Linked DNA regions of Homo sapiens. The protein of the gene in region 2 purifies or fractionates together with the protein of the main gene of each other region. This does not show direct contact. Each region holds a gene or a part of one and is shown on either strand. Other genes may lie near its edges.

Region 1 (3,519 bases), on a different chromosome or scaffold from region 2:
GAAATTCTCCCCTCTCTTTTCTACATTGTATTTTCACTACTAAGTATTACCATTAACATGTTAAAAAAATTCTTTTAAGGAAAAAAAAAACCCAAATATTTTGGCTCTGTTATTTCCCCTTTATTTTATTTTATTTTTATTTTTTTTGAGATGGAGTCTCACTCTGTTGCCCAGGCTGGGGTGCAGTGGCATAATCTTGGCTCACTGCAACCTCTGCTTCCCGGGTTCAAGCAATTCTCCTGCCTCAGCCTCCCTAGTAGCTGGGATTACAGGCGCCTGCCACCACACCTGGCTAATTTTTGTATTTTTAGTAGAGACAGAGTTTCACCATTTCGGCCAGGCTGGTCTTGAACTCCTGACCTCAAGTGATCCACCTACCTCAGCCTCCCAAAGTGCTGGGATTATAGGCATGAGCCACCGCGCCCAACCTATTTTATTCTATTATTTTATTTTATTTTATTTTATTTTTTGAGACAGGGTTTCGCTCTGTCACCCAGGCTAGAGTGCAGTGTGGTGTGATCATGGCTTACTGCAGTCTTGACCTCCCTGGACTCAGATGATCCCCCCACCTCAGCCTCCAGAGTAACTGGGACTACAGGTGCATGACACCATGCCCAGCTAATTTTTGTATTTTTTGGAGAGTTGGGGTTTCACCTTGTTGCCCAGGCTGTTCTTGAACTCCTGGGCTCAAGTGATCAGCCTGCCTCGGCCTCCCAAAGTGTTGGGATTACAGGTAAGAGCCACCACACCCAGCCCCTATTGTTTCTTTTATTAATAGGTATACTTTCCCATGTCTTGTTTTTTTTTGGACCAAAACAACTCCATAGAGTTGTCTCTATGTACCATTTCCAGCTTCTTTCTTTCTAATGTGTCTTTCTCTAAAATACTTTTTATTGCAGTAAAATATATATAACATAAATTTACCATCTTAGCCATTTTTTAAGTGTACAGTTCAGTGTCATTAATTACATTTACAATGTTGTACAACCATCTCCATTATCCTTTTCCAGAACTTTCTCATCACCTAAACAGAATCTCTGTACCCATGAAACGTTAACTCACTAATTCTCCCTTCTGTAACTGTAAATGGGTTCATTGCCCAATGCACACAGCAAGTCAATAAGCTGAGACTCCAGGTTGCAGCAGAGAAAGGTCTAATCATAGGGCCGCCAAATGAGGAGATGGAGGAAAACCTCAAATTCATCTCCCGTAAGAGATGGGGGCTAAGGTTTTTTAAGGGTTTTGAAGTGGGCCGAAGTGTGGCAATTGTTTATTTGTTAAAGAGTACAGGATGAAGTCATGGGACAGGGAGATGAAGAAGCTGTATTCTCTTGCAGATCCCGTTCCTCTGTGGGGGACTTCAAACTGGTTGCTGGAATTCAGGGGTCTGAAAAACATATTAAGCAATCCTTAAACAAAAGCCTTATGATTATAATGTCAGAGATCCTGTTATAGGAAAGATGGGGATAGAAATAAAATCTTAAAGTTTTATGACCCTAATGTCAGAAATCCTATTCTGTAGGAACAATAGGAATGCAAATAGTCAGTATCTAGTGCTATATGACTTTTAGCAACCAGGAAGTGGGCCAAAGTGCGGCCTGATTAATGCTTAATTATAACTATATTTCTGTCCAGAACCTGGCATGCACTTCTTGTGAACCCTGTGGGGGCAGTTTCACTCCCACCCACTAATATCTTCTACTTGCTGTTTTTATGAATTTGCTTATTCTAGGTACCTTATATAAGTGGGTTAATATAATATTTATCCATTTGTGTTAGAGTTAATTCACTTAGCATAGTGTTTTCAGGGTTATTCATGTTGTAGCATATATTAGAATTTCATTCCTTTTTATGGCTAATATTGCATTGTGTATATATGTCATATTTTATCTGTCGATGGTGGGGCTGTTTCCACCTTTTGGCTATTGTGACTAATGCTGCTATGGATATTGATATACAGGTATCTATTTGGTTCTTTGCTTGCAATTCTTTTGGGTATTTAGCTGTAAATAGAATTGCTGAGTCATATGAGTAATTCTATGTTTAAGAAAAGATTATGGTAAAATACATACAAAATTTACCATTTTGGCTGGGCATTGTGGTTGACGCCTGTAATCCCAGCACTTTGAGAGGCCAAGACGGGAGAATTGCCTGAGCCCAGGAGTTTGAGACCAGCCTGGGCAACATGACGAAACTCTGTCTCTGGGGGAAAAATAAAATAAAATAAAATAATAAAAAAATAAAAAATAAATCTTTTTCTTACTATCTTAACAGTATTTAATTATGTTAAGTACATACTTAACACAACTGTTAAGTATGTACACATGGTTGTGCCTCCAAACTCCAGAACTTTTTCATTTTGCAAAACTGAAACTCTGTACCCATTAAACAACTCCTCATTTCTCCATTCCCCCCAACCCCTGGCAACCACTATCCTACTTTATTTCTAAGAGTTTGACTACCCTAGATATCTTATGTAAGTGAAAACATACAGTATTTGTCTTTTTTTGACTGCCTTATTTCACTTAGTCAATCTATGTTTAACTTTTTGAGGACCCACCAGACTGTTTTCCGTAGTGGTTGTGCCATTTTACAGTTCTATCAGCAATATGTAAGGGTTCCAGTTTCTCCATGTGCTCACTGACACTTATTTTTCTTTTTCATGGTAATCATCCTATTTGGTGTGAAAAGTGGTATCTCATTGTGGTTTTGATTTGCATTTTTCTAAACAACTAGTGATATTGAGCATCTTTTCATGTACTTGTTGACCTTTTTTGTATATCTTCTTGGAGAAATGTGTATTTGAATCCTTTGCTCATTTTTGAATTGCATTGTATTTATATATTTTATATATAGGGAATATTTATCCCTTACCAGATATATGATTTGCAAATATTTTCTCACAATTTGTAGTTTGTCTTTTCACTCCCATGATGGTGTCCTTTTTTGCACAGAAATTTTAAATTCTGATTAAGTCAAATTAATTTTTTCTTTTGTTACCTTTTGCTTTTTGTGTCAATCCAAGGAATCATCACCAAATCCAATATCATGAAGATTTTCCACAATGTTTTCTTCTAAGAGTTTTATAGTTTTAGCTCTTACATTTAGGTTATTGATCATTTTAAGTTAATTTTTCAATATCGTATAAAGTAAGGGTCCAATTTCATTCTTTTGCTTGAGGATACCAAATTTTACAAGCACCATTTGTTGAAAAGACTGTCCTTTCCCCATTGAATGGTTTTGGCACCCTTCATGTCACAGTCAATTAACCATGTTAGAGAGGGTTTATCTCTCTCTCTCTCTTTTTTTTTTTTTTTTTTTTTTGAGACAGGGTCTCATTCTGTTACCTAGGCTGGAGTACAGTGGTGCTATCTCACTGCAGCCTTGACCTCCCAGACTCAAGTGATCCTCCCACTTCAGCCTCCCGAGTAGCTGGGACTACAGACACACAGCATCATACCTGGCTAATTTTTGTATTTTTTTTTGTAGAGTTGTGGTTTCACCATGTTAAGGCTGGTG
Region 2 (3,519 bases):
TAAAACAGACAGACTTGTGAAGGGAAACATCAAACATGACTTGGGAATAGCTTTACTTTTTTAGCACACTTTTCCCATTGACAAATGCCAATTCTATCACAAAAGTATGCCACAAGTCTGGTTCACTTACTTCTTTTACATATCTGTGGCTGTATTCATAAGCTGTCATTGGTTCTTAGCAACAAAGATTCCTCAGTATCATACACACACTCACACAGATGTTTAACCTAATCAAGCTCCAAGGTAAAATCAAATAGAACATAATTGGCTGACTGGCCTTGAACCTGATAATGGCAGGTGATGCACTGTTTGCATAAAAACCATCAGTATGGTAATCCCAAGTGTCTTTATCAAAGCCTCAATTGTATAGCTAGCTCCTCAGCTTTCTTGGAAGCAAACACCAGAGCTATAACATATACTATTGTCATAAAATCAGGAACAAACAGATAGAAACCATAAATGTAGCAACAATCCCAAGCGTCTTATCTAGTTCCAAGAGCTACTAGGGAGGCGGAGGTTCGAGCCTTTTGCTCACCTCAAAAAGTCTGTCGCATTCCATGATCATGTGCGCTAGCCCCTGAGCTGCTGCCAGATTCTCGTTGAGGTCCTTTTGATCTGGCTTCCCAGTGGCATATTTCTTCTGTATGACTCTGTAATTGAACGTGAGTGTGCTAAGCAGATCCCACACCAACGAGCTTGTCACAATACCAAACTCATCCCTTTTGTTTTCTGTTTATACCCAGATGCTATCCAGATCCCAGGCTTTTGCGTTTCCAAATAAAAACAATGATCACATATCTTAGATATCTGAATCAGGCTAACAGTCTGACAGTTCACAAGGAAAAATCTTGGAAAACTAAAGGGCAGGAAGAACAGCAGGGGACAAAATTAATCTGTTTTTCCAAAGTTTGAAACCCCTTAACTGCAAGCTCCTGTGCTTTGGTCTTAAATATAGCCTTTTAAAAATTGTAAAATACTACTTTGTGTATGTTTTCCTCCTCACTCACACAGACAACATAAAACTCAAGCTTTCTGGATCACAGCTGGCATTCTTCAATGCTAGCTCAATAATTCTATGAATCTGAGCCCCGTGAATTAGGGTGTCTCACAAGATTTTCTGATTATGAAAAGAGTGTTGACAAATCCTGAAGTTGAAATGTAGCATGAGACACATTTTATCTATCTATAATCTATTATCTATCTCTATTATCTACCTATCAATCATCTATTTATCTCTCTTTATCATCTACCATCTATTTATCATCTATCTATTTAGCTGTCATCTATCATCTATGTATCAACTATCTATCAATCTATCATCTACCTATCGTTGATCTATCTACCTACCTATCTATCTATAATCTGTCTACCAATATATCCATTCGTATCTATCTATCCATCCATCCATCCATCCAGTCTTATGAACTGTGGGAATGCCTGCTTTGGGATTACTGTTGTTACTGAGAAAAAAAACCCACCGTGGAGAGCTTTCTTTCTTCAATAAATTAAGATGAAAGAGGGAGGGGGCCAGACACACTGCCAGGTTCATGGGCGTCATCTGATTCTCTTCCACCAAGTTGACGACGTCGTTCAGGAAACACAAGAGCGTCTGCAGGACCTCCCTGTTCTCATCGGCCAGTAGCAGGATGGCAGCCTGCACGGCCTGCAGCCGCTGCTCTTTGGAGACATCTGAGGAAAAGTGGATGCCAGGTCATTGGAGGAGCAGACATAGAAAGAGCCAGCTGGGAAGCACTGTGTAAGCTCCACATTCCTCGTGTGAACACGCACCCAGAGTCATCATCAACAAAAACAACCAGAACAGCAGGAAAGGCACAAAGAAGTCAGTAATTGCTGAGGCCTCGCAGCTCATGGGAGGCAGAGCTGAGTCCCAACCCTTGCAATTGAACTTTGGATCCCACGCTCTCGATGGCCAAGCAGGGTTTAGAAAGGGGCACCACCATCCTGGTTTTCTGTATTCTGAGCAATCAACCCACTCACCTGCTTTCAGAAGGCTTCTGGGTGAAGTTGGTGATTAGGACTCTGTCAACCTGGCATCCCTCTTGCCCATCCTCCCTGACAGACAGCTTGGGAAGCCACTCTCAGGATGCCCAAGGCTCCGTGGGACATGGTTTGAAAACCACTGGGTTAGGGAACAGTAGCCTCGCCTTGCGTTTCTCCACCCCTGCCAGCCAGGCCATGATGCCAGTGCTGCACAATTCACCGGGAGTGGTGTTGAGCTGGTGGGACCTCTGACCTCATTCCTAGAGGGCCAGCTTCTCGAGGGGAAGCCTGTACATCTTCCTTTTTCCTACAAATCTCCCAGGACTTGCTTTGCAGGATGCCTGCTATTGACTTCATGTGGAGACCCAGCGTCACCTGTTCCATAATCTTGGGGTTTATGGAAATGGAGGCTGTGCTTGGAGAAGAAGAACCAGGCAGCCTAAGGTTATGGGGGATGTCTGGCCCTTCTCAGTGCCATTACCCTTGAGGGTGGTCCTTGTGGTAGTGGGTACTGGTTATGCAGGCTTACCAGGGAATTGGTTCCAACAATATGAGGGGAACTAAATGGAAATCACACCAAATGAGTGATAGGTGCTGCCTTTTGCTGCTCCCACCTGTGGCTGTGTTTATTTCATGATCACTTTAGTCCTCTCACTGCGAAAGACACCGTCAGGAGCTTGCTTCTGTCAACACTGTTGTCTTTCTTAAAGTGCCATGTTCTGGAGCAGGGGCCTCCACACGAGGGTGTCTGAATTCTCAAGGGGTGGGGAGGTGTGCTCCTGACAGTCTCTTGAGGTGTGAGAAGAAATCATTAGCACTCCCACGTGTGTTTATCTTTTCTCTTACCCATTAAAAATACTGATTGGGTGTGCTTTATAATGTGCATAGTACATTAGAGTACATCCAGTATATTTATATTACTAAACATAAATACACATTCAGATATTTGCTACTGGCAGGAGTGCATGATAAAAACAAACTCAGAGCTGGCTGTTCCAGAAGGGCTGAGGTGTGACCTTCTGAGGGGGTCCTGGCTGGCCCCAGGCTTTGTGGTCCTGGGGGGCTATCGATGCTGGATTCGCCTGCAGTCTCATGCAGGAGGCATGACGTCACATGCCAGGGCTGACCACACTATGGCCCTGATTAGCAAATCCAAGTTCCTAGAAAAGCCTGAGCATGCCTTCAGTGGTCTGAAACCCGTCTCCACTCCCACCATGTCCATTGTGTACTGGCACAAGATATACCTGGGGTTTACAGAGAAGAGCCGTTTTGTTAAAATTAGAGTGAACCCATTTTCTTACTCTCGCTTAGGGTGGAGGAGAAACAGATGGTACTAATGATCTGAAGCTTGTGAGAGGTGTAACAAGTTTTGCTTGAGCTGCAGAATTGTTTTAAATATGCTGCTCTAGGTAAGGTGTCCAGTGTGTATACATTGTTTAACTTTAGATTACTAAGCTTCTTTTCCATGCCAACATTTTTTCCCAGCCATCATTTTTGAAGAGTCGCCTGTCATCTCTA
Region 3 (3,519 bases), 2.7 Mb from region 2:
GCAAAAAACAAAACAAAACAAAACCTCGAAAAACTATCTCCAACTGGTCACAGGGGAGAGTGCCACCTAGATTCCCAGCTGTGGACTGAAACTGCTAATGAGAAGAAAAAGTAGGGCTGCCTCCCCTCAGTGCCCCACCCTGTTATTCCTTCTGCTTAAGGATGGCACCTCAGAGCCTGCCTATGGCCCTTGGTAAGAAATAGGGCTTCTTACCAAAGGAGTCTTTGACTCAGGCTGACCTGAGTTCAAATCCTGACTCAACCACTAAAACTAATCATGAGCTTGCATGGTATCTAACCCATTAGAGTTTCAATTTATTGAAGTGCAAAATGGGAATCAAACCATCGACTGGAAGAGTAAGAAGTAAAGGAGTTTCAGGCCTAGCATATTGTGGGGTCTTAGTAAGGAATAGGCTACCCCACCCTTCTCCCCACATTCATCTGATTCTGCACACAGAAACCAGGAAATTCCCAATGGTCCCTGATGCCTAAGGGTGTTTGTACTCCACGGAAAATCAATGGATCCCCAAGAGGTCCCAAATGGGACCTGGACTGGAGGATAAGGGCAGCAGAGAGAAATAACTGCAGGAGACTGTAATCACCGCACACGGCAGTGTCTGTTTCTTTTATCTCCAAATGAGAGTTAATTACCATCGCTGTGTGTTTCTGTTAGTCTGAACATTTTTTACTCTGGGGTTAATAACTTCTGTTCTACCTTTAACAAAGACCAAATGGAAGCCTTAAGATTGCAGTAATTGACAAAACAGATTGGGAAAACAGAGAAAATGGCTCCCACTGTAAATGTTAAAGAATAAAATACAATTTTAAAAAGAGTGGAAGAAACCTGATAGCTAATTATGTCTGGATAGGGCACAGCAGTACTATTTTTCCTATTCTCGAAGCGGGCTAGTTCTTTTGCAAGCATAGCACTTAAACATAAGAGAAGCATTTACCCAGTCTCTGCAATGATTTCTGGAGCCACGTATGTTGGGGTGCCACAGACTGTGTACAGGGGGCCGTCTACAATGGTGGCCAGTCCAAAGTCACCCAGCTTCAGTGATTTGCTGCCATCTTGGTGCTCATACACCTAAAACAAAGGTAAAAATCACAATTGTCTGAAAACCAAGAGCTCAAAAGCCCTTTCTTGAAGAAATGAGGAACACTGTGTTTAAATTTAATGTATAGGAGGTAAAAAATAAATTAGGCAATTATGCAAGAATGGATATACATACAAAATAGCTTACTTCCTTTAGATTACTGCAAAACTGGAATCATGGTGAACACCTAACAAATGGAAATTGATTAAATAAATTATAGTACATTCATACAACGAGAGGTTACATGACCTTAAAATGGCGATACAGGTTTATAGTTATTGAATTATGTTTGGGAAATGAGCAGAGCAATTTTCAGATTGGTTTTTATAAAATGTCCATTAAAGAAAAAAAGTACATACAAAAAAAAAAGAAAAAGTCTGAAAGAACACAGTGCCGATGTATCTGTCTCTTGGTGGTAGGATTACAGGTTTTCTTAATCCTTTTGTTTATCTGTCTTTGATGTTGTCTATAATTAAAACTGATTTGCATAATAAAATGAAGTATAGAAAGTCCCTAGTGCAGTGTCTCCGATTTATGAAAATAATCTCTTTGTTTCAATATATTAAGAAAACTTGCCGGGAGCTGTGGCTCACGCCTGTAATCCCAGCACTTTGGGAGGCCAAGGCAGGTGGATCACCTGAGGTCAGGGGTTCAAGACCAGCCTGGCCAATATGGTGAAACCCTGTCTCTACTAAAAATACAAAAAGTAGCTGGGCGTGGTGGCGGGCACCTGTAATCTCAGCTACTCAGGAGGCTGAGGCAAGAGAATCACTTGAACCCGGGAGGTGGAGGTTGCAGTGAGCTGAGATCAAGCCATTGCACTCCAGCCTGGGCAACAAGAGCGAAAATCTGTCTGAAAAAAAAAAAGAAAGAAACTTTAAAAATGCAATTCTTTAGTAACTAAATACAAAAAAACTATACTTATAGTAAAATACTTTATTTTCAGTGCCTCGTATTTTCAACATGATCTATTTACATTTCTTAATAATTGAAAGAGATATTAACATTTCATTTCACCTGTGGCAATTTGGAAAGATTTATCAGGTGCAGAGTCAGCATCCTGTCCAGGTTTCCCTTATTAAGGCAGTAAAAATCTTCTCTCTTTCACCCAACAAATCAAGAAAAGGATGCATGTGACTGTAGGCAAGTATTTATACTCCTTTAATTCCAGCCACGATCAAAACAAATGGAGCTGCTCTAAAAAGTATCCCAAATAACTTATTTTATTTCAAAGAAAAGATGAAAGGGCGTTCAGAATCCTAATTGAGTCCCCTCTGTTGGAATGAATAAGATTAAGAAAAGAAAACCACAGTAAAAGGCTAGTAATTCCAGCAAGGGCAATCTTCACGAATGCCTCAAGGAAGCAGCTAAGTTTTCCATGTACATCAAAATACTTGATCCAGCAAGCCGAGGCTTGCATATTCTCCTGTTCTCACTCTGTGATCATCTGTTACTTGCTGCAGTAGTTTGAATCTTTTGCACAGCAAGGCACATCTCCACACATCAGGGGCACCGCTACTGTTCACACGTCACGTCTGCCTTCCTTTGGAAAAAGTAGATTAACTTTGCGTTTCACTGCAACACAAAATGCAGATGTTTGGCCAGCTAAGCTGCAATATCAGCAATGATCACCTGGATCCAACAGTTTTGGCAGAAGCAGGCAGTCAGATCCACCTATCTGAAAGACTGCATCTTTTCTGAGCAGAAAATATTCTTTTACGTTTTCTCCACACTCATAGCATGGAGTCTTATTCCCAGGAGCTGTTGATCAGGATCAAGTTTGGGCTGCCCTCTGGCAGGTATCCGAAGATTTGTGAGGTCACCTGTGATTGGGTTGTTAGGGCAAAAACAGCCATATGTCCCTCACAGATGTGGCTTTGCCCAGCTGTCATCTGGGACGGACATTTTCTTCCTAACTTAATGAAGCAGCTGTCCAGCCTTGGTCACTTAGAGTTAAGTTAAAAACTTTGAGGCATCACAGCTGCAAAACACAACATCGGCCCCAGCCTAACTGTTCTTAGGCAAAAGAAAACCCTAAGTTGTAGTCTTACCACGTCAGCCATTCTGGTCATCCAAATGACAAGCAAATGTTTTTCATGAAAAGAAATCTGAGATGGAAACATCTAGTAGATGGTCTCGTTGATTTCCGAGGCAGAGCAGAATTGTTTACTTCCTTAATTCCATTTTGTTAACAATAACCTTTCTAAAATGCAAAATAATCTCCTGCTTTGATGTTCTGCTAGGTCCAAACATTCATTCTGTGTGCTTTGTGAGGTGATGCAGATTGTAATTTATTCAACCCACTTGATGCAGGAATTTTGTAGCTTTTTTCTTAAACACAGTATCTACACCACCTAACTGTACTCAAAAGTTTGACAAAAGCAGATGTTGGTGGATTCAGTCATAAGTCCCATTTTAGTTCT
Region 4 (3,519 bases), on a different chromosome or scaffold from region 2:
TCTTGCCTGACCCAGCAGAGCGGCTGGGAAAATACTGGCAAAATTAGTTGAATTTCTGTGGTCAGGAGACTTGGGCTCTCCTGGGAAGGACAGAAGGGAGAAAGGAGAATCAGGGGTAAAAACAGAGGCTTCATCTGTACCCATTTTCCAGATGGGAAAGCTGGGTCCCCGGGGAAGGGGCGGATCTGGGAGAGGAATCCAACTTCCAGGGGCCCAGGTCAGGTATCTCTCTCAGCTCCAGGCTGCAGGCTGGACACAAAATCAGAATTCTCCCACTAGCTTCAGGCATCTTCATGTCTTTATTCCCTCTCCTTAGGAACCCTATTCGGCTGCTGCCAGAGGAGGTTGCATGGAAATAAGTAAGAAACACCAGGCTGGGCACCGTACCTTCAGCCTGTAATCCCAGCACTTTGGGAGGCCAAAGCAGGAGGATTGCTTGAGTCCAGTTCAAGATTAGCTTGGGCAATGGAGCAAAACCCCATCTCTACAAAAAATGCAAAAATTAGCCAAGCGTGGTGGCACATGCCTATAATCTCAACTATTCAGGAGGCTGAGGTGGGAGGATTGCTTGAGCCTGGGAGGTGGAGGCTGCAGTGAGCTGAGACTGTGCCACTGCATTCCAGCCTGGGTGACAAAATGAGACCCTGTCTCAAAAAAAAAAAATCACCATATATTAAGCATGTACTCCTTCCTTCCTTCCTTCCTTCCTTCCTTCTTTTCTCTCTCTCTCTCTTTCTTTCTCTCTCTTTCTTTCTTTCCACACTAGATTCTAAGTGATATTTATGTATTAACTGATTCAGTCCTTAAAACCACCCTAGGGGCAAGTACTATGATCATCTCCATTTTGCAGATGAGGTAGCTGAAGATAAGGAAAGGTGAAGTAACTGGCTCAAGGTCACCTGGCCAGTAACTGAGCCAGAGTTCAGACCAAGCCGTCTCAGCCTGCCCTTGGGCCTCTTTAGTCCTCAGCTTTCTCCTCTGTAAATGGGACAAGGTGGTCACGAGGCTCCATAAGCACCCTTGGGGACAGAGCCTGACTCGAAGGAGGGTTGTGATGTAGGTTTCCCTCCCCCATCAAACCTATTTGGGATGTGATTCATCCTCCTCCCACAGCAGGGTCTCAGTGGGTGGTACTGCTGCCCTAGAGCACGGGGGCAGGGCAGCAAGGCTCCAAGGCCACAAGAGCCCCACCTCCTCCTCTCCCCATTAGGAGGCCCATGGGCAGCCACTGTTCTCTCGGGTCTTAGTTTCTCAACCTTTGCAAGCTCCCTGCAGTCCTGGCTGGGGTGGGGTGGGGCAGGGCTCCAGGCCCCCATCAGCTGTTGCAGTGACAAGCTGTGGCTTCCCCAGGAGCAGGGTGGCCCTGAGTGTCCAGGAAATTGTTCATATTCTGCCCTCCTGCCCATCAGAACTGCTGTCAGGCCCAGAGCCCATGGTTCTCAGGAGGGAGAGGAAGACCACGGGACCCGCACTTAAGCAAGCCTCCAGTCTTTAATGCCATGAGTTGTGTGTCTATCATAGAGGTACTGAGGCCTGCAGCAAAGGCTCACCATACATCTCAGGAGAAAAGCGGGTGGATGCGGGTGTCCGGCCCACACCTAGGGGCCCCTGTCAGAGCAGCGAGGCACATGTGCAGGAACGGGCGCACACATACACTCCCCTTTACCAAGGAGCCAGTCCCAAGGAGCCAGTGGCAGCAGCCAGGGGCGCGAGGGCACTAGGTCACTTACCCGCTCATGAAATCCCCAAAAATGTAGAGGCCGTTCAGGTTGGGGTACTCGCAGCCCCGGTACACGTAGCCCCCTGTGACCGACTTGCCAACCGTGTGCGGGTAGGCGAAAATCGGCAGCAAGTCATCTGCGGGGTGGGAGGGAGAGAAGCTTCGGTGAGCCAGCGGCGGGAAGGTTCATCAGCCAGGAGAATTCCGGAGGGATTCCGCGGGGGTGGGGCGGCCACGGAGGGAGGGGCGTGCCCACAGCAGGGCTGGCGTGCCCACAGCAGGGCTGGCGTGGTGGAAAGCGTGTCTGCAGGGGTGCCAGGTGGGGATGGAGCGAGGAAGAACTCAAGAGCGCTGCTGGGAGGCCTCCAAGGCGCAGGGAGGCTCCGGGTGGAGGCGGGGGCAGTCACCGAAGGAGGCTTTGGCTCACAGCCCGTGGAGTTGGGGTGGGGGCAGATCCAGGGTCAGGGGGTGCCTGGGGTGCGGGTGGTCCCCGAGTGAGGCCCTGCCGCACAGCCCATAGAGTGGGGCCGAGGACAGACTCAGGGTCAGGGATCTCCGGGGGGGGGGGGGTGCGGTCTCCGAGGGAGGCCCTGCGGCACAGCAGGTGGGGTGGGGTGGGGGCGGATTCGGGGCCGGGGTCCCCGGGGCGCGGGCACTCACTGAGAGAGGTGTTGGCGCACAGGCTGCGGTCGTAGCACTCGAACCCTTCGCGCGCGCGCCAGCCATAGTTGCCGCCGCGCTCCACCACGTCCACCTCCTCGAACTTGTTCTGGCCCACGTCGCCGCAGAAGAGGCGCCCGCGGCCAGTGCCCGAGGAGGGGTCGCCACGGTCGAAGGAGCAGCGCCACATGTTGCGCACGCCCAGGGCGTAGACCTCGGGCTGCGCCGCGGGGTCGCCCACGAACGGGTTGTCGGGCGGGATGCCGTAGGGCAGGCCGCGCTCCTTACGGTCCACGTCGATGCGCAGCACCTTGCCCAGCAGCGCCGACCTGCGGGCGGGGTGGGAGAGGGCGCGGCTCGGGGTCGCCCTGAGCCAGGGCTCACGGGCTCCGCGGGGCAGGTGCTGGGGCGCCGGCTGACCGCTGAGCCAGGTGCAGGGTGAGCCTAGGCTGTGGGGCCAGAGACCCTGGGATGCTGTCCGCCTTAACTACTTACAGCCGGGTAACCATTCATTCACTCAACATGCATCCCCCACCTTCCTGTGCGCCAGGCCTGTCCCATGCGTTGGACACAACACATCATCTATTTCGTCTTGTCCTCACAACAGTCGTTTAGGTAGGTGTGTCCTAGTATGATCCCCACTTTACAGATGTGGCAGCGGAGCTCAGAAAGCTCAAATAACATCGCCCAGTTGCCGCACCGCTGGGATCCAGCCCAGACAGCCTGGGCCCAGAAACTCAAGCTCTTTACCACACACTCTGTGGAATCTTGGTGTCCTCAACTGTAATAGTAGAGTGGTCCCGCTCAGACCATTCAGTCCTCCCGGACTGTGGTATAGGGTGAAAATTCCACTAGAAAAAATGACTTGTATTTACAGTTTTCTTCCAGTACTCGGCACTGTGACCAGCACATAGTAGGTGACCATTAAGTGCAGAGTCAGTGAATGAAGGATTGCAATCAAAGCCAAATGCACCAGCGTGCGGGTTGGTGGGGAGAGGGGGAGAGAGCAGAGGGGTGCAGCCCTAAGCTCCAAGCAGCTAAGGAGGATAGCTCATGACAAAAGTGACGCGTGATGGGAAAAATCTGTAATGTGCTTAAAGACAGTGCGGAGAACATGCCCTTCTCAGCGGTGATTTCTG
Region 5 (3,519 bases), on a different chromosome or scaffold from region 2:
AAAAAGTGGGCAAGTGACCCACACAGAGCCAATCAGATCCTTCCATGAGAGTTTTACACAGTCCCTGGGAGGGGTTGGCTGGCTGAGGATAATGGAAAGGGGAATGATTTGGGGGTCATCTCTGAAGAGGGAGAGGATGAGGCCAGTGTGTAAGAAGAAGCAGGGAGGAGCGGAGATGGGGAAGCATGGAGAGAAGAAAACGGCCGGAGAGAAAAAAACAGCCCTAGGGATACAGCATGGGCCCCTGGGGGAGCCTTGCCCAGGACTCCTCAGAGCAAGTGTAGGTGTGTTTGACTCCCGCACCCGAGCACGCTCGGCTGGCACAAATCTCTCCCCCCAGGCAGGACAGATCAAGGAGAACTTCATGGAGGAGGGGGCGTTGAAGCCTGTTGTGGGAGGGCCTGCGGGATTCCTCCGGGTAGGTAACCTGGGGAAGGGCAGGCCTGCCAATAGGATAGTCCACGCAGGATCACTGCGGCACCCCTGCGCATACGAACTGGGATCTTGCTGAAGGCATCACACATGGTCTCATCCCCAAAGCGGCCACGAAGGCCAGTTTCCTAGAACCACTTTCCAGCCGAGCTGACTTAGGGGCTTCCTCAAGCACACGGTGGCGAGGGTAGAATGTGGACCAGAGACTGAGAGAGTCCAGCAGGAGAGCTGCTGCCTCTCCACAGCACGCTGCCCATCTGCGTTCTGCCGGTGCTAGGAAGCCCCACGGCAGGGGCCATCGGGCAGCCACCACGCGGCAGCAGCGGCGCTCTGCGGGCCGGACCAACTGTCAGAGGGGGTCACCAGGAATAAGAGGGCAGCAACTGGGAGCCTGCCAGGATTCGAGTTTGCTTTGGTCTGCAAGGATGTGGGAACCTGGGGGGAATCCTTGCTTCTCTCCTGAGCCTCTGAGGCCCTGGAAGGCAGGACCCAGGGTCTGTTTATCTTGGGACCCCTGACCATGGGGCATGTTGTTCTCAGAACAGTGCTCAAAGTGAACTGGGAGGTGGCACACCTCTATGCCTTCTAGAAACACCCACAGCCACTGGACACACCTGAGGTCCCCAGTGAAGGGCTCAGAACAGGTTGAGTCATAGTAGCCCCCCAGGGCACCCCACCCATTGCGGGAGGCAAACAAGGACAGAGGTTCCAGCCGGGCAGAGCAGAGCCAGCTGTGGAGCGAGAGACAGTGAGGCGGGTGGGGGACCACTAGGACAGGGCGTGGCTGGCGTGTAAAGTGCACGCAGGAAGTGGCGGGTGGGAGGCAGGACAGGAGAGCCCAGGCCTAGACACCACTGTCAGCCTGGGGATGCTTGGCGGCTTCTCCAGTCCTGGGAGCAGGCATCACCTGGCCGCGGGTGCCCCCTGGTGGCAGCTTGAAGGAAGGACGGGCAGTGGGTCGCAGCCAGCGGGGACCTACCCCGCAAAACGCACATAAAAGCTGGAATCAGCTTGTTACAGCTGCAGGTCCCTCTCGTCCGATTTGGATAGACCCTCTTGGGACCCACTGCACCAGGGAACCCCAAATGCAGCTCAGCAGCATGGGAGGAGCCCTGTCTGCTGGGGGTGTCTGGGATCTATCTGGGGGCAGGGCCTAGAGAGAAGGTCCTGTGTCCTGCTGACCCAGCTGTGCCAGCCCAGCCCCGGGTCGGGCCTCCATCCTGGTTTTCTAAGCATCCTTTAGTGGCCCCCTGTGATCACCATGCCAGCCCCTTGCCTGAGCTCGGGCTCTGCTGAGAGACCCCTGCGGGCTGGGGGAGCTCCAGGATGTTGGCAACTCTCTCAGAAATCTCCTTCCCTGGACACAATGACTTGGCCCCCCACTTGGATCCAGCCCTGCTTCCAGGGGGCTCCCTCCTGGTCCTGTCTCTGCCATGTCCAGCCCTCCCCTCATCCCACACACCAACCCTGATGGTCCCAGCCCTATGCCCAGAGCCACAGAGAGTCATAGTGCGGCAGCTCTCACATGACCACCACAGTGCCAGCCACCCTCAGAGGTCTGGGAGAGCCCAGACCTGTCATGTTGACTGATGCCATCCACAGGGTGGACAGCCCCCCACCAGGTGATGCCCAAGTCAGGGCTGCTGGCTCTCACTCCACCCTCCTTGCCCACCACACTGGACAGGACTGCGGGGAGGAGGTGACAGTACATGGGCTCCTGACAGGTGGTATTCTGATCTAGCAGCCAGTGTAGTCTTTATCTCCACACTGTGTATCATCTGGAGACCCACTTCTGAATCTGGGCGGCTGGACAAAGAGGCATCCTGTCCTTGAGGAAGCAGCTGTAGGAGACACTGAGAGGCCACCTCTCAGCTTCTGAGATCGAAACTCACAGATGGAGAGTAGGCTTGTCCATTTCAGAATCTTACGCCTGGCAGGACCCTGAGCACAAAGCTGATGTGATTTGGGAGGGCAGAAGAGGGATTTTCCCACCTCCAGAATGGAGGAAGAATCCCAGAGAAGAGACACAGAGGTAAGGACCCACGGGTAGAGGTCAGGTCAGGAGCCCCTGCCACAGCCCCCTTGTCCATGCCCGCCCTGGGCTGAGCCCAGGCTAGGGAGACACAGGAACTCACTTCTGGCACTGGGGCGCCACTTTCCAGGCAGGTGGGGTTGAGAGACGGCTGGACTTGTGGATTGTGACAAGCCCTGGAGGGTGTAGGAGCTCCAAGGTGCCCCTGAGCCTCAGCGGGCCCGAGTGGGGTGTCACCAGGAAGAGAGGGAGACAGTAGTGGTGATGGGAGGAGGGGTGAGTAGACCGATGGTCAAAGCCACAGGGGTGCAGGGCTGTCTCAGGACATACAGGTGTGGATGGATGATGGTGACCGGGTGCTGGGCTATAGCCCTCGCCCCCGACAAGCTGGGAGAGGGGAGCACATCACCGGGGACCCTGAATTAACTAAACATGTTCCCACTACTGCCCATAGGGCAGGCGCCAACGTGGCTGTGAGGTTCAGTGACAGAAGATGAAGAATTTCATGTCCTGCCCCTTGAATCTGAGCGCTGAGAGTTGGACCTGCTCTGGAAAGCGTGGGCTTCACCCAGACACCTGGACCCATTGAGGCTGAGTAGCCCCATGCTGCGGGTCACCGGAATCCCAGCCCAGACCCCTGCAGGGCAGAAACCCTCCCTACGGTGAGGTGAGGTGCGGGCTGAGGTCAGGGCTTACCTGTCGCTCCCGTTCCAGGCACATTCAAACTTGTCGAAAATGCAGTCGTTCTCGTACAGGGAACAGAGCTTGCTCCGAAGGTAGTCATGGACCTGGTGGGATAAGGGATGAGGTGAGTGGACGGGGCGTCCCGACCATCCTGGCCCTTCCACAAGAAGGGTCTCAAAGAGCAGCGAGGGTCTGCATGCCCTGACATGGCCCAGCGCAGACCTGCTCATCTCAGCGAGGGTCTGAATGCTCTGACACAGCCCGACACAGCCCTGCTCATCTCATCGGGAGGCCCATGACCAGGCACACGGCTGACCCCGACCGTGACACAGCCCAATACAGCCCTGCTCATCTTATCGGGGGGCCCACGA

What was found.
Region 1: the proteins of STARD13 (region 2) and TESK2 purify together in Homo sapiens (affinity purification with mass spectrometry, with the first as the bait; one large-scale study listed by BioGRID). This does not show direct contact.
Region 3: the proteins of STARD13 (region 2) and DCLK1 purify together in Homo sapiens (affinity purification with mass spectrometry, with the first as the bait; one large-scale study listed by BioGRID). This does not show direct contact.
Region 4: the proteins of STARD13 (region 2) and HHIPL1 purify together in Homo sapiens (co-immunoprecipitation; one large-scale study listed by IntAct). This does not show direct contact.
Region 5: the proteins of STARD13 (region 2) and PPP2R2C purify together in Homo sapiens (co-immunoprecipitation; one large-scale study listed by IntAct). This does not show direct contact.

The regions. Positions count from the first base shown.
Region 1 is NC_000001.11:45,453,147-45,456,665, reverse strand, and holds part of TESK2 (dual specificity testis-specific protein kinase 2), read left to right. Parts: intron 1-3,519. UniProt on the Homo sapiens protein: Dual specificity protein kinase activity catalyzing autophosphorylation and phosphorylation of exogenous substrates on both serine/threonine and tyrosine residues. Phosphorylates cofilin at 'Ser-3'. May play an important role in spermatogenesis.
Region 2 is NC_000013.11:33,111,243-33,114,761, forward strand, and holds part of STARD13 (stAR-related lipid transfer protein 13), read right to left. Parts: intron 1,690-3,519; coding exon 1,479-1,689; intron 651-1,478; coding exon 536-650; intron 1-535. UniProt on the Homo sapiens protein: GTPase-activating protein for RhoA, and perhaps for Cdc42. May be involved in regulation of cytoskeletal reorganization, cell proliferation and cell motility. Acts a tumor suppressor in hepatocellular carcinoma cells.
Region 3 is NC_000013.11:35,809,883-35,813,401, forward strand, and holds part of DCLK1 (serine/threonine-protein kinase DCLK1), read right to left. Parts: intron 1,087-3,519; coding exon 953-1,086; intron 1-952.
Region 4 is NC_000014.9:99,658,618-99,662,136, reverse strand, and holds part of HHIPL1 (HHIP-like protein 1 isoform a precursor), read right to left. Parts: intron 2,710-3,519; coding exon 2,381-2,709; intron 1,858-2,380; coding exon 1,731-1,857; intron 1-1,730.
Region 5 is NC_000004.12:6,326,102-6,329,620, forward strand, and holds part of PPP2R2C (protein phosphatase 2, regulatory subunit B, gamma), read right to left. Parts: intron 3,253-3,519; coding exon 3,161-3,252; intron 1-3,160. UniProt on the Homo sapiens protein: The B regulatory subunit might modulate substrate selectivity and catalytic activity, and might also direct the localization of the catalytic enzyme to a particular subcellular compartment.